2 separate regions of the Homo sapiens genome follow, and region 1 is linked to region 2. Evidence: fine-mapped expression QTL. Tissue or cell type: whole blood. Region 2 holds a variant in brackets; the other region holds the start of a gene. All regions are shown on one strand. Distances are from middle to middle.

What was found. PIP is the estimated chance that this variant, and not a neighbour inherited with it, causes the effect.
Region 1: it holds the start of INTS8, and the variant in region 2 is fine-mapped to the expression of INTS8 in whole blood (INTERVAL, PIP above 0.99).

What each region holds. Positions count from the first base shown.
Region 1 is chr8:94,822,187-94,824,800 of GRCh38, forward strand. It overlaps INTS8 (integrator complex subunit 8), which reads left to right and starts at 1,101. Exons shown (of 27, transcript NM_017864.4): 1 at 1,101-1,375. The coding sequence starts at 1,246. RefSeq lists a silencer at 1,138-1,527 and an enhancer at 1,688-1,747.
Region 2 is chr8:94,642,377-94,645,140 of GRCh38, forward strand. ESRP1 (epithelial splicing regulatory protein 1) reads left to right here. Exons shown (of 16, transcript NM_017697.4): 3 at 927-1,040. Among named protein-coding and RNA genes, the nearest start is that of ESRP1, 2.6 kb to the left of the region's middle. RefSeq lists an enhancer at 136-225. The variant CAG/C (reference allele first, on the strand shown) is at 1,398.

The DNA.
Region 1 (2,614 bases), 180 kb after region 2:
TTAGATGGTAGTGGAATAATGAACTCTTCCTTAATTAAAACTTATTTTTACATATGTAATACAAATGTCAAAATGTCAAGTTAATCTGTACTGATTTCCTTTTTTTTCTTTCTTTTTTTTTTTCTCGTTGTGAGACAGGGTCTCACTCTGTTGCCCAGGCTGGAGTGTAGCGGCACAATCACAGCTCACTGCAACCTCAATCTCTTAGGCTTAGGTGATCCTCCCGCCTCAGCTTCCTGAGTAGCTGGGACCACAGGTGTGTGTCACCATACCCGGCTACTTAAAAAAAATTTTTTTTTGAGACAGAGTTTCGCTCTGTTGCCCAGGCTGGAGTGCAATGGAGCGATCTCGGTTCACTGCAACCTCCGCCTCGCGGGTTCAAGCGATTCTCCTGCCACAGCCTCCTGAGCAGCTGGGATTACAGGCGTCCGCCACCAAGCCCGGCTAATTTTTGTATTTTTAGTAGAGACGGGGTTTCATCATATTGGTCAGGCTGGCCTTGTATTCACGATCTATGAATGCATCTTTTTTCAGTTTTAATCGTTAATGAAAAATACAAGAACATCACAGAACGGAGGTAAATGTATAGGGTTAACAGCGCCTCTAGCGGGGATATCGAAAGGATCAACTAGGCTCTAAGTATCGGGAGCTAGCAGCAAGGGCTGCTCACCGTATGCTGCCATCCGTCCAGGAAGCGAGTGGGAAGCTGGTGTTCTCGGCAGGACGGCGGGAGCATCTGAGGAGAGGACCCAGGTGCGAGGAAATCTCAGAAATGGGAACGGGGAAATTGAAAGCACAGGAGATAAACTTTGCTTGGGTCACAACTAGAACCCTTCGCTTCGCCTTTACGAAAATATTGAGGCCCGTTGCAACCCTAGATGAGGTTGTCTCATTTTCTCGCTGGAGAACTGTCAGGGAACACGGAAAACCCACCCGCGACCCGGCTTCATGCGGCGCCGTCTCCTATGGCAACCGGGAGGAGGCGTGGTTCGAAGGTTAGTCACGCCCCTTTCCTTCCAACCCGAACAACGATTGGTCCGAAGGCGCGGCGGTGGCGCGGGGAGGCGGATCCAGGACCGCAGCTCCGGCTGGCCCGCGCCGCCATTTTGGATTGTGTGAGTTTCCGGGACGTTCGGAGGGTGGCCTCTCTCCCACCGGGTTCCGCATACCCCAGGCACCGGCCCGCATCCAAGTGTCAGGTTGGAGCCGGGAAGCGGCCCTGGTGGTAGCGGCGGCGGGGGCAGGATGAGCGCGGAGGCGGCGGACCGGGAGGCGGCCACCTCCAGCCGGCCCTGCACCCCGCCGCAGACCTGCTGGTTTGAGTTTCTGCTGGAGGAGTCACTGTTGGAGAAACATCTGCGCAAGCCCTGCCCGGGTGAGCGCGGCGCCTGCACCTGGGGAGCGGGACCCGGCCACCGGCGCTGTCCGCCCAGCTTCCCTCCGCTCCCCGCCTTCTCGGTCACCGAAGCTGCGGCCTGGGAGGCGCGCACAGGAGCCCAGCTCCGGCCGGGCTCCTCGCTTCCCTTAAACATGCCCGGGTGGAGGGTCAAAGAAAAGCTCGAAACAAAGGCTCTCCTACCCCCGGAGGGGAGGGCTTGGTGCTGTCATCCTAAACCCTTTGGTCCTTTTTACGATTTACCTTTTTACTGTTGGGGTTTTAGAGGCTGCGAGGCGGGTCTTGTGGTTGCTTGGGTCGGGGAGGCTGACCAGACGCCTCCTTCAACCCCAAGCTGAATAAATTCAGGGAGCTGGGGAGAAACCAGCTGTTGGGTGTTGATCGTGACGCTAGTTATTATCTTAGGTTTTATTTAAACATTTTTTTCTTCAGTGAGGGAATTTTATTGACTCTTATTCCAAAGTTGGGCTGTAAGTTAAAAGAAAATCTTTGAAAGTAGGAACTGCTGCACATTTGCAAGATGGCTTTGTATAGTGATGATAATGATTAATAGCCCAGTTAAATGGGTGTGATTGATGGGGGAGGAGGAAAACTCCAGGCATTCTCAAAAAAGGTATTGGCACAAAAAGGTAAGTTCCTCGGATAGCATTTCTCTAAATTCAAATCTAGATATGGCTTGTTCAGTCTCAGACTGGCCTTCACTGATAGAGACCACTGTGTAAGAAGTTAGTGTACTTAGGCAGTTTTGGCACCTGTATAATGCCCTTAATTCATTCCTTTTGAAAGATAATTTGTTGAGTGCTTTCCGGGTGCCATGCACTGTGCTTAATTGCTCACATCCGTTACCTCCTTTAATTTAATCTTCAAAATGATCCTCTATTTTGCATTGGAAGAAGCAGGTACGGAGAGGTCACTTGATGGAGGTCCCCCTAATTAAGTGTCAAAATAATAGTTCTAATATTTATATCTCATTCTTCTAATTGGCAGTGGTTATTTGCAGAACCAGAAATCTATGACTGTTATGTTCTTCCCCGTAAGGTGCTTTTTTTTGCTTTCTTCCACTCTAATCTGTTACCCTTCCTCCTTACCACTCTTCCGCATCTCCTTTAACCCCCAGGCACACTTCTTACATACGTATTCCTTAGTCATTTTAACAGCGCAGCTGTTTGGATTCCTTTTGTGGCAAAAAAAAAACCCAAACTCCCCCCCCCCCCACCC
Region 2 (2,764 bases):
TGCGGAGTTTGAATCCTAGCGCCCCCATCTCCAGGTCCAGACCCCAGACGCGCCGCTCCCCTGCGGGGTTTGGGCCCACAGCCTTCGGGCAGGGGGCGCTGTGGCGTAGACGTGCAGGTGGGCCCGGCGGGTGTGCAAGAAGTAGCACTGTGGGTTGGAACCTGAAGGTGCCTGCCTGGTTTCAGGCTTCTGAACTCCCAACGAAAGGCTCGGTCCGTCATTATTTCTTTAGTGGCCTTGGTCCCACTGCCAGGGAGGTTTTTCAGGTCCGAACGTGCAAGGCTGCCCGTTGTGTCACTGCGGAACTGATGGAATCCCCTTATTAGGACTGAGGTGACCTAAAAACCGGCTGTTCCGGGGTGCTGACGGGTGCCGGATCGGGTAGGGCGGGGCGCTAAACACCTGTGCACAGATGAATGCTCTGCGTTCTCACGACCTCTGCCCTAGCACACGAGCTTCGAGTTATAGGAGAAAGCTATCCTTCCTGGGGTGTATTCATCCAAGACTTTCCAGATCTGTATACCCAATACCCGTATTTGTTTATTAGAAGCTGGCATCTTTCTTAAGCCTGGCACATCCAAACATATAAAAAGTAACACTAGGGAATGATGTAATCTGCAGGCAACCTGCTGATGAAATGAGACATCTGACTTAAGTCTTGAATGAATTTTTTTTGTAAAAACAGAAGGGAGAATGCATTGACAAGTTTCTCCTGGGCGCGAACTGCGGATTGATTGGAAAGCTTCCCTACCTCGAGGAAGCTAGACGGTTCGTGGGAAAGGAGTCTGTCCAAGGTTGCCCCAGCACCGGTGTCACCCATCAGGGCCCTTATTGCGGTTTTCTCTGGCTATCACCAAGGGGAGCTACTTTGCAGAGTTTGTAAATCGTGCATCAGTTGCATCCCTATGTGTATCTTGTTCTTGCAGTTTAACCAGTCAGTGAGCAATGAACTGAATATTGGAGTAGGGACTTCCTTCTGTCTCTGTACTGATGGGCAGCTTCATGTCAGGCAAATCCTGCATCCTGAGGCTTCCAAGAAGGTAAGAGTGCTGGCTTCTGGGAAAAAAATGGTTGGAGCTTTGGGGTGACTGGAGGTTTTTAAAAATTTTTGGTTTATTCAAGTTTCTCTGTTCTTAAAAAGATGCATATAGGGAGTTATTTAATGAGTACAGAATTTCAGTTTGGGAAGATGAAAAAGCTCTGGAAATGGATGGTGTTTATGGTTGCAAAATATGTTAATGTACTTAATGTTTTACTGAACCATACTCTTAAAAATTATTAAAATGGTAAATTTGGTGTTATGTATATACAAAGATACTCTTTGGTGACTTAAAATAGTCTCTTTGTTTACGTCCAATTTTCAAGATGCATGACACTTCCCTTTTCCGAAGCTAATA[CAG/C]AGTGTGAATTTTTGACATTTAAAATAACTACAAAGAGAGGAAAGAACTATTCTTTAGTATGTCATAATATCCTCATTTGTGTTGGAAATGCTATATCCTAGAAAGGAAGGAAAAAAGAATTAAACATTTAAAGTTGTATTTCTAATCATTTCATTAAAAAGGCTACTTAAATAAGATAACCTTATATCTAGTGAAACCACAATCGTAGCACTCTTCACTTTGTCTGATTTTAAGTCAATGTTCAAAACATTCTTGCATCAAAACAAAAGGGTCAGCCTCATCTTTTACCTTTGCTCATTTTTCTGACAGAGAGAGGATTACAGAGTGAGAGAAATACAGTCTTACTATAGGTAAAATGTGATTTCTCTCCCTGGGATAAATACTGAGGGGCTGTGGGAAAAGGAACAGCAGAGACAACCCACCCAGTGTAGCCAATCATTGTTAATACACTGTCTCTTAACAACTTAAATTAGTTTGAGCTGTAACTTTTTATTGTGGTAGGCAGGCACCGAGCTTGAAAAGATGGAAGTAGAATATATTTAGGTACCTGTATAAGGCAAGGCTTGCAATGAAAGATGTAGACTGACAAATGACGACCCAGGCAAGTAAGTGCAGATTTTATTTCGTTTAATATATTATGACAATTCAAAAAGTTTGAAGGAGTAACTCAAGTTGTTATGTCTTCAGAAAATCATTCCTTTTATACGAGTCTTAGTAATTATTTGACAAAAGGGGAAGAATTTTTTTAAAAAATTAAATGCTAGACTAGTCGCTACATCCTTACCAGAAATAGTAATATGTAAGGATTACTTTTTTACTCCCAAACTCACATGACGGAAGGACAAGACTTAATCTTTTCCCTGTTGGGCCAGAGGAAAATAGCTGTTTTCATTATTTAGGTGGAGTGCTTTGGGTGTAGGAAAACATCTGGAGAAAAATTAAGACTTTTTCCTCAGCCACAGCTATTAGAATTTTGATTAAATACAGAAACTAAAACAATTAATGTTATAGTGAAAGTAATTCTGTATATTCGTTAAAGAAAAGGGAAAATGGCAAAACATGAAATAATCCTGCCACTCAATATATTAAAATGTTTTTCTCTAACATGAATGTATTTGGATATATTCTTCTAGATTTCTGTAGACAAGCATTATTTACAAAGAGCATTCATACGGCGTAAGCCTTTTAGCCTACATTATTTAATAGAACATCAACATTGTTATAACCACTAAATAAAATACTCAGTATTTTAAATGGACACAACAATTTAAACTGATTATTGTTGAACATGTGAGTTATTGTCCTTACAAATAGCTTTTAAATGAGCATTTTTGTAGGTAATAGGGAGGTTTCATGGTTCTTTT